2 separate regions of the Homo sapiens genome follow, and region 2 is linked to region 1. The links come from fine-mapping of genetic effects on gene expression. Tissue or cell type: whole blood. Region 1 holds a variant in brackets; the other region holds the start of a gene. All regions are shown on one strand. Distances are from middle to middle.

Evidence for each region. PIP is the estimated chance that this variant, and not a neighbour inherited with it, causes the effect.
Region 2: it holds the start of WBP1L, and the variant in region 1 is fine-mapped to the expression of WBP1L in whole blood (TOPMed, PIP above 0.99).

What each region holds. Positions count from the first base shown.
Region 1 is chr10:102,062,119-102,067,311 of GRCh38, forward strand. It overlaps HPS6 (HPS6 biogenesis of lysosomal organelles complex 2 subunit 3), which reads left to right and starts at 3,231. Exons shown (of 1, transcript NM_024747.6): 1 at 3,231-5,193. The coding sequence starts at 3,357. RefSeq lists an enhancer at 2,723-2,772 and a silencer at 2,983-3,652. The variant T/C (reference allele first, on the strand shown) is at 2,430.
Region 2 is chr10:102,741,505-102,746,632 of GRCh38, forward strand. WBP1L (WW domain binding protein 1 like) reads left to right here and starts at 2,444. Exons shown (of 4, transcript NM_001083913.2): 1 at 2,444-2,639. The coding sequence starts at 2,550. SFXN2 (sideroflexin 2) reads left to right here. Exons shown (of 12, transcript NM_178858.6): 12 at 1-1,988. RefSeq lists enhancers at 2,091-2,140, 3,081-3,310 and a silencer at 2,421-2,580.

The DNA.
Region 1 (5,193 bases):
TGCAGTTTTTTAAAAAAATCAAAGTTGTACCCTAATAGAATATAAAAAAGTAGGCAGGTGTAAGAGAAAGGTGTAATGAGGTGAACCCCAATAGAAGGTATGATCAGAATTTATTCATAACAGGTGCTGTCTTCCAGTGCAGTGATCAGCTTGTATAGCACCAGAGATCATGGTATCTTTAACAAATTGTTCCGGCTAAAAAAACAGTTGTGGCCAGGCACAGTGGCTCATACCTGTAATCCCAGCACTTTGGGAGGCCGAGGCAGGTGGATCACCTGAGGCCAGGACCTTCAAGACCAGCCTGGCCAACATGGCAAAACCCCGTCTCTACAAAAAATACAAAAATTAGCAGGGCATGGTGGTGTGCACCTGTGATACCAGCTACTCGGGAGGCTGAGGTGGAAGAATTGCTTGATCCCAGGAGGCAGAGGTTGCAGTGAGCCAAGATTGTGCCACTGCACTCCAGCCTGGGGAGACAGCAAGACTCTGTCTAAAAAAAAAAAAAAAAAAGTCGTGCTTCCTACTTCTTAGTATTTGGTGGGTGTGGGTGTCTTGGTTCATGACCATTTGCCACACCTGTTCTTCCTTTCTCCTGAAGATTCTGTGAGTCCCCTATGTTCTTCTAAATAACTTCATTTTTGCTTAAGACAGCCATGGTCTGTTTCTGTAATTTTTTTTTTTAAAGAGACAGGATGCTTGCCATGTTGCCCAGGCTGTAGTGCAGTGGCTATTCACAGGCACAATCATTGCACACCACAGACTCCAACTCCTGGCCTCAAGTAATCCTCTTGCCTCAGCCTCCTGAGTAGCTGGAACTGCATGCGTGAACCACCGTGCCTGGCCTACTTCTGTAATTTTTAAGGAAAAGTTTTCTAAGTGATATCACACACACAAACATGTGCCCATGAAAACGTAATGATTCCTTCACCAAACATCTGTGGAGACTTTGTGTCAGGCTCTACTCTAAATATGAGGATAGGATACAAAAACAAAAGAAATCTATGTCAACTAAGAGCAACTGAAGGAGGAGCAGTTTGGGGCAGGAAGATGATGTTTAGGACATGTTGAGAATGAAATGTCTGTGAGATGAGACATCTTAGGCAGAAATAAATATTTAGTAGACATTTGGATGCTCTTTTTTTGTGTGGAGCTTAGCAGAGACGTCTGAGCTGTAGGCAAAAGAAAAAAATAAAGGGGCTCAAAGTGGAATCAGGATATAGGAGGAAGAGCACATTTAAAGGATGATGGAGGGGCCGGGTACAGTGGCTCACACCTGTAATTCTAACATTTTGAGAGGCTAAGGCGGGCAGATCACTTGAGGCCTGGAGTTCGAGACCAGCCTGGCCAACCAACATAGCAAAACCCGACCTCTACTAAAAATATAAAAAGTAGCTGGGCATGGTGGTGCACTTCTGAAATCCCAGCTACTAGGGAGGGAGGCTTAGGCAGGAGAATCGCTTGAACCTGGGACATGGAGATAGCAGTGAGCCGAGATTGCGCCACTGCACTTCAACCTGGGCAACGGAGCAAGACTCTGTCTCAATAAATAAATAAATAGGCCAGGCACGGTGGCTCATGCCTGTAATCCCAGCACTTTGGGAGGCCAAGGCATGTGGATCACGAGGTCAAGAGATCAAGACCATCCCGGCCAGCAAGGTGAAACCCTGTCTCTACTGAAAATACAAAAATTAGGTGGGCGTGGTGGTGGGTGCCTCTAATCCCAGCTACTCGGGAGGCTGGGCAGGAGAATCGCTTGAACCCAGGAGGCAGAGGTTGCACTGAGCCAAGATGGTGCCACTTCACTCAAACGTGGGCGACAGAGTGAGACTCTATCTCAATCAATCAATCAATAAAGGATGGAGGAAGATGAACCAAAGGCAAATAAAACTCTGAAGGCAGTGCTATCTAAAAATAAAAATAAAAAAATAAAATAAAATAAAAGGAAAGGAAAACCAGCCAGGAAAGATGCAGTGCAAACCACAGGAGGGACTTTCAATGAGAAGGCTGTCAAATAAAAATGTCCTTGAAGACCTCAGCAAAAGCTACTTCAGGGAAGTAGTGGGTTGAGGATAGAAGGAAAGAAAGTGGAGGTGGCAAATGTAGCATCCTTGCAAGAAAATTGACTGAGAAAGGAAAAGGGGAGGGAGTGATGGAGGTGGAAGTGGGGAGATGAGGATGAAAGAACGAATTCCAAGACAGGAGAGATGACAGGGTATTTCTATGCTGAGGACGGAATGAGGGCAGTGAAACAGAAATGGATGCAAGTTCTCAAGGAAGGTAGGGGCCGGGGAGGAGAGGCAGGGCTCATAAAGAGGGATTGGCCTTGGAGAGAGGAGGAAAACTGCTCACCTGAAAAGGCAGTCAAGGGGTGGAAGGACCCCTGCATACAAATTTGTAGGTGTTACTGAAGAGTCGGTACACAGGCTCAG[T/C]GCTTCTAAATTATGTTTCTCTGTTTTGGTTTGGGTGATGAGTTGTTGATATGATAAAGTGATTTGTTGCACTGACTCTGGAGCCAGAGTGCCTGTGGTTGAAATCCCACCTCCACCACTTAATACCTGCTTGATCTTAGTTAAGTTACGTAATCTCTCTGTGCTTCATCCTCCTTATCTGTAAAAGGGACTAGGGGATAGAGAAGGCTGTCACATAGTGATATGGAAGTGGTTTTCTTTCCTTCCTTCCTTCTCTCTCTCTCTCTTTCTTTCTTTCTGTCTTTTTAAAATTTTTATAGAGACAAGGTCTGCCTATGTTGCTCAGGCTGGTCTCGAACGCCTGGCCTCAAGCAATCCTCCCACCTCAGCCTCCCAAAGTGCTAAGATTATAGGCGTGAGCCACCGCGCCCAGCCATGTTTACTATTTCCACTAGATTGTCATCTCCATGAGGTTGAGGTTTTCTATTTTGTTTAGGGCTGTCTACTCAGAGCCTGGCACAAAGCATGTGCTCAACGAAAATTTCCTGAATGAGTAAATTGGGGTGAAATTCTTGGGAGAGGGGCTCAGGGGGCTGGAATCCCTATTCCTGCGTGGGACTCCGGGCCACTGGGCGGCGTCCTGGGGTCTGGGGAAGGGCCTCCCCCTGCGCCGAGAGCGTGCCCGGGCGGGCGCGGTCCAGGCGCTGAGCCCCTGGGGCGCTCCCGTGGCTCCTCCCCCGGCGGGCGTGTAGTGTCGGCCCAGCGACTGCGGGAGGCATCCCGGAGCCGGCCGGGCGGGGCGGAGTCGACGCTCGGCCCGGCCTCTGCTCACCTCATCCACGGGAGACGGAAGTCTTGGCCCTGCTCCGCTCCCCCGAGAATCGGGCCTCGCCCTGCTGGGCGGCTGGACCTGGGCAAAGCCTGGGCGCGCTCCCGCGCAGCGGCGCCATGAAGCGCTCGGGGACTCTGCGGCTGCTCTCGGACCTGAGCGCCTTCGGCGGCGCGGCGCGGCTCCGGGAGCTGGTGGCCGGGGACTCAGCGGTCCGAGTCCGTGGCAGTCCGGACGGCCGCCACTTGCTGCTCCTGCGACCCCCTGGGGCGGTAGCCCCACAGCTGCTAGTCGCGTCGCGAGGGCCCGGCGCGGAGCTAGAGCGGGCCTGGCCGGCCGGCCAGCCCTCCCCGCTGGACGCCTTCTTCCTGCCGTGGCCAGCGCGGCCGGCGCTGGTGCTGGTGTGGGAGAGTGGCCTGGCCGAGGTGTGGGGCGCGGGCGTGGGGCCTGGCTGGCGGCCGCTGCAGAGCACCGAGCTGTGTCCGGGCGGGGGAGCCCGCGTTGTGGCAGTGGCGGCGCTCCGAGGCCGCCTGGTGTGGTGCGAGGAGCGGCAGGCCCGGGCCGAGGGCCCGTCAGGGTCGCCAGCAGCCGCTTTCAGCCACTGTGTGTGCGTCCGGACTCTGGAGCCCAGCGGGGAAGCTAGCACCAGCCTGGGCCGCACACACGTCCTGCTGCACCACTGCCCTGCCTTCGGGCTGCTGGCCTCCTGCAGACAACTCTTCCTGGTGCCCACTGCCACCACCTGGCCTGGCGTGGCCCACGTTCTACTCATCTGGAGCCCAGGCAAGGGCAAAGTGATGGTGGCTGCCCCACGGCTTGGTCTCTCCTACAGTAAGAGTCTGAATCCTGGACGAGGGGACACATGGGACTTCCGGACCCTGCTCCGAGGCCTTCCTGGGTTGCTGTCCCCCAGGGAGCCACTGGCTGTACACACCTGGGCCCCAACTCCCCAGGGCCTGCTGTTGCTTGACTTCGGGGGCACTGTGAGCCTATTGCAGTCCCACGGTGGTACGCGGGCTGTGGGCACCCTGCAGGAGGCACCTGTAGGCCCGTGGGGGTCTGCAGCCCTAGGCACATTTCAGGGCACTCTGGCCTGTGTGCTGGGCTCCACATTGGAACTGCTGGACATGGGCAGTGGGCAGCTGCTGGAGAGGAAGGTCCTAAGTACAGACAGGGTACATCTGCTAGAACCGCCAGCCCCCGGCATGGAGGATGAGGAAGAGCTGGAGACCCGAGGGAATCTTCGTCTGCTTTCAGCCTTGGGTCTGTTTTGTGTGGGCTGGGAAGCCCCACAGGGTGTTGAGTTGCCTTCAGCCAAGGATCTGGTGTTTGAGGAGGCCTGCGGGTACTACCAGCGGCGGAGCCTGCGGGGTGCCCAGCTCACTCCAGAAGAACTGAGACACAGCAGCACATTCCGGGCACCTCAGGCTCTGGCCTCCATCCTCCAGGGCCACCTGCCCCCATCTGCACTGCTGACCATGTTGAGGACCGAGCTTCGGGATTACCGAGGCTTAGAACAGCTGAAGGCCCAGCTGGTGGCTGGGGATGATGAGGAGGCTGGTTGGACTGAGCTGGCGGAGCAGGAAGTGGCACGCCTGCTGAGGACTGAGTTGATAGGAGACCAGCTAGCCCAGCTCAACACCGTTTTCCAAGCCCTTCCTACAGCAGCCTGGGGTGCCACCCTCAGGGCCCTGCAGCTCCAGCTAGATGGGAATGGCAAGCTGAGGTCCCAAGCACCCCCTGATGTGTGGAAGAAAGTGTTAGGGGGAATAACCGCTGGAAAGGAACCCCCCAATGGAATACTGCCCCCCTTTGAACTCCTGTGCCAGTGTCTGTGCCAGCTGGAGCCTCGATGGCTGCCACCCTTTGTGGAGCTGGCACAGCAGCAGGGCGGGCCGGGCTGGGGGGCAGGGGGCCCAGGACTGCCCCTGTATCGCCGAGCTCTGGCAGTGCTAG
Region 2 (5,128 bases), 680 kb after region 1:
AATCCTGGCTAGAACCAGAATCCTAAAGGTTTCCTGACTACAGGTACATGCCACCATGCCCAGCTAATTTTTAAATTTTTTGTAGACAGAGGGCCTCACTATGTTTCCCAGGTTGGTCTTGAACCCCTGACCTCAAGCAATCCTCATGCCTTGGCCTCCCAAAGTGTTGGGATTACAGGCGTGAGCCACTACATCCCACCTGGGGTTTCTTAGTGATGATGAAACCTAGCCTTTATGTGGAAGACTTACAACTTTTTGAGGCCAGGAATTAGAGACCTTGTGCCATGAAAATAATTTGGTCCTTCCCTAGTACTCAATTTTTACTTCTCCTCTAAGGAGCTTGACTTGTGGAATGGATAAATTTCTAAGAAACGAGAGATTGGCAAAAATACGTGTCACTTTTTATAGTACTTGGAAAAGCAGGATCAAGATAAAGGCAGAACTATGGACTTTCTTAAGCTGAGGGAAGACTGACTTAACTCTTACCTGTTTCCCATTTTTCCAACACTTAAGCCAAGAACAACTTCCTCTGGGCTCAGATGTGGGCTAGACTGGGCCAGGCTGTAAAACACTTTGACAGGTTTTTGAGAGGAAATTGACTGCTAAAGTCAACTGTGTTATTTGCCATGGGTCTTCCTTTGTCCATTTATTTTACCAACTTTTTTTTTTCTTTTTTTTTTGAGACAGAGTCTCACTCTGTCACCTAGGGTGGAGTGCAGTGGCACAGTCTTGGCTCACTGCAACCTCTGCCTCCCAGGTTCAAGCGATTCTTCTGCTTTAGCCTCCTGAGTAGCTGGGACTACAGGCATGCACCACCACGCCTGGCTAATTTTTTGTATTTTTAGTAGAGATTGGGTTTCACAATGTTGGCCAGGCTCGAACTCCTGACCATGTGATCCGCCCACCTCGGCCTCCCAAAGTGCTGGGATTACAGGCAGGAGCCACCGCACCTGGCCTTTTTTTTTTTTTGAGACAGGGTCTCACTCTGTTGCCCAGGCTGGAGTACAGTGGCACAATCAAGGCTCATTGCAGCTTCAATCTCCCTAGCTCTGGTGATTGTCCCACCTCAGCCTCCCAAGTAGCTGGGACTACAAGTGTGCACCACCATGCTTGGCTAATTTGGCTAATTTAGTTTTTTTATTTTTGTAGAGACAGGGTTCTCTCCATGTTGCCCAGGCTGGTTTCAAACTCCTGAGCTCAAGGGATCTACCTGCCTCAGCCTCCCAAAGGGCTAGGATTATAAGCATGAGCCACCACACCTGGCTATTTTACCAACATTGATCAAGCTCTGGTTGAGCCTTGTACAGGATATTATAGGCTTTAAAAGAAGAAGAAGAAAGACCTGGTATGCTGTACAAAAAACTGCAAACCAGGCACGCAGATATAAGTGTTACAAGAATCCAGAAGAAGCAGCAAGGAGATGGGGCTAGGAGTTTGTAAGCAGGGAACTGTATCTGTAATATGTAAATGAAGTTACTGGGCATCTCTTCAATGGTCAGTGTGAGTGGAATGTGTGGGAAAATGTAGTGGTGAGAGGTGAGATAAAGAGAAGTAGACAGGGACGAAGTCACAGAGAGGACCGTGTTGGGAAGTTTGGACTCTCTATTCTGTAGGTAGATGAAGTATTTAAAAGAAGAGGCCATGATATAGTAATATTTGGTTTAATGTGGTATGGTTGTAGTGTGTGGCGGAAATTTGAGAGGAAGAATTGTCAACTTGCAGGGCAGCAGGGAAGCCATTTGTATTTAGCTAGAAGAACATGGATTGAAGCAATGGATGATGGATTTCAGAGCAATTTGTGAAGTAGAACCAGAATTTTGTCCGTCGAACTTGGGGTGACGAAGCACTATGCCTCAGATAAAGGTACTATCTTCTAGGGAATTCAAACGGACCTAAGCTGCTATTTGGGCAGTTGAGACCAAGAGAGGCATCCTGGTAATAGTGCTGTGCTTCAAGACAAAAGACATTAAAATATTTTTACATTGCAATTGTTTTCCTCTTCAGGAGCGCCTGGTTACCTTTCAGGAATAATTTATTTTCCAACACCCTTGAGAAACATTAAACCTTTTTTCTTTTTTTGATGTGGAAAACTGGAAAACTAGTACTTCCGCCACACTCAAGATGGCTACATCAGAAATAGACTTTTCCATCCACCTGGGTGGCCCCGCCCCCTTATGAAGCTGCTTCCGCCACTCTCTGCGGGTTGGGACGAATTTTACACTTCTTCGCAGCATTCAAGATGGTCCGGCTTCCTCCTACTTTTTATTGGCTGCATCGCTTCGTCTTCAGGGGAAGGCGGGACTTATATTTGATCGACAGCTACATTGATCAATGGACAAAGGGCAAAGGCCAATGAAGCGCTGGAACTGGAGAGTCTCTCGCGTGTCTGGGAGGGTGTTTTGCGCGGGGCGGGGTGGAGCAGAGCCGGAAGCGGGAGGGGAGCGTCAAACAGGAAAAGAAGGGAAGAAGGAAGAAGAGGGTAGAGGAGGAGAGGGAGGAGGAGGAGGGAGGTGGCGGCGCCGTGGCGGAGGAGCAGGAGCAGGAGGGGGATGGAGAGGAGAAGGCTCCTGGGTGGCATGGCGCTCCTGCTCCTCCAGGCGCTGCCCAGCCCCTTGTCAGCCAGGGCTGAACCCCCGCAGGTAAGGGGGAGGGGGCGTCTGGGCCATGTTGGGTCCTGGGGGTCGTCGAGGCCTGGCTGGAGGGGTCTGAAGGAGTGTTGTTGCCAAGAGTTGAGGGGTCCCGAGAGGGGCGTCTATGCCTGGCGTGGACAGGATCTAAAGGGGCGTCGGTATTTAGCTGAGGGACACCTGTGACAGTTTTGGTGTCAAGGAGGTGGCAGAGGCATGATGCCAAGCGAGTGAGGGGCGTTTGAGACGGCAGGTTGGTTAGGTGGGCTGGGGTGACTGTGGCTGGATAGCGGTGCCAAGCTGAGGATGTGGGCCTTATTCGTGTCCCTCTGTGGAGCAGGTGTCCCAGGCAGTAATGCAGTATGTACGTCTGTGTGTGTAGGGGTACACAGGCTATTGAGTTGGCCTGTGAGGGAGGGGATCCTGAGGATATTTCTTTAAGGATGGACTGGGGAAAGTTCCGAGGGCATCTTAGTACGTTTAAAAAAAATTACTATGTTCCTGGGAGAGACTTGGCCCCATTTTAAAATCTGTAAGCCATGGCGCACTTGGTTGGAGGGAGGACTCTCAGAAGGCAGGTGGGATGAAACAGAGTGGAACCCCTCAGGAGGAGGAGCACACTTGAGCTGTAACAAGCTCTTGCTGTTAGGCTGGCTGGCCTGGGAGAGCAAGTCACGGATGCTGATCTGAGCCAGCTCAGGGCTTTTGACCAGAGGGTGGTTCTGATGCCAATATGGGCAGCAAATGGAGCACCCTAGCTTTTCTTGCTGGGTGGCTTGCTCTTTATCCAGGCAGAGAAGCTTGCTTGTGCTGATTCCAGCTCCAGCTGGCATTTCAAAACCCTAATGGGAGCGTTACTCCTGGTGCCAAGTTGGGTGGGGTGCAGTGGGGGCAATCACCCCTCCTTCCTTGCATGTGGCAAAGCTTTATGATTCTTTTTTCTTCACTTTCTGTTCTTTTCCCCGTTTTTTCAGAAAGGCATACACACATAGACGCATAGCGTAGTGGCAAAGTTTATACAACTTAGCGCTTGAACTTGTGTTGTGAACAAGAGCAGAAACTGAGTGCCAGCAAAAATACTTATCTTTTCCCTAGGAGTTTTAGGGCTGCCTTTTCACAAATACATCTTGTTTTGCCCATTATCCTCTATTTTAAAATACTGATTAAAAAATAAGTTGAAATTCACATGACAAAAACCATTTTAAAGTGAACAATTCAGTGGCATTTAGTACACTTACAATGTTGTGCAACTACCACCTCTATCTAGTTCCAAAACATTTTCATCACCCCAATAGAAAACCTCGTCCCTACTAAGCAGTTACTCTCTGTCTCCCTTTTCCCCCAGCCCCTGGCAACCACCCGTCTGCTTTCAGTCTCTATGGATTTATCTATTCTGGATATTTTATATAAACGGGATCCTACAATATGTGGTCTTTGTGCCTGGCTCCTTTCACTTAGCGTAATGTTTATAAGGCCCATCCACATCGTAGCATGTACTAGTACTTCATTCCTGTTCATGACCAAGTAACATTCTGTTATCTGTAAACCACAATTTATTTATGCATTGAAGTGTCTAATTTTTCCTCAGGATATGTTTGTGTATACTAGAAATACCATGTGAAAGGAATGTAGCTCATTTTCTAGCCCAGTGTATTCCCTTTTCGAGGGTTGGGACCCTTCTGTTTTAGCCTTTGTTGGGGTTGTTTTTCCAGTGGAAATCATAAACTGGCAGAAGAAATATATTTTTTTTGTTTACTAGAAATGTTATAGCCCTCAGGACCAGTAAAGTTAAGTATAGGTATTGACAACAAAATATAGAATATAGTAAATACAGAATTTACTTTTCCTTTGCACATGTCTGTTTCTGTAAGTATCTCGAAAAGGCTGTCCCCAGTAACCAATAAATAACATCGGTAGAGGTTTGGTTTAGGAATGTCAGAGCCTTTGGAGATGGGCTGGTCAAAGATAGGAACTAGATCCACTTTTTCAGCAACGGGGATGATGGAAAGTGGAGGTTCCTACCAGGTCGTGGAGCCTGGGAGGTGTTGTGAACATGTGGAAGGGGATTGTTAATGTTATATTCTAATTGCAGTTTGCAAACCACAGGCTGCTTTCTTATATCTGTGGCACTTCTAATACTTAATTTTGGGGACAGGTGTCTTTTGTACTTTGTTCCATTTGGATGAATGCTATCACTGACCAACAGCTGTTACACGGTTACAATTCCTGCAGAGAAGGGAAAGTTTTCGTAATGAGCAGTGGCCCTCTTCCTAACCAGCCCCCACATACCCTCACTCCTGACGCTCCCTATACAATTCCATCCCCCACCTTATACTCCTGTCTCTTTCTGTCTGGGAGTACTAGATATCTATAGTGAGATTTCTGTTTTGAATTTTAACCTTCGGAATGCAAGTTACTATATAATTATTAACTCTGAATCCACCGCAATTTAGTCAGTGTATTTTTTTGGGTTTTTTTGGGGGGGGTGGGGGAAGGGGTTG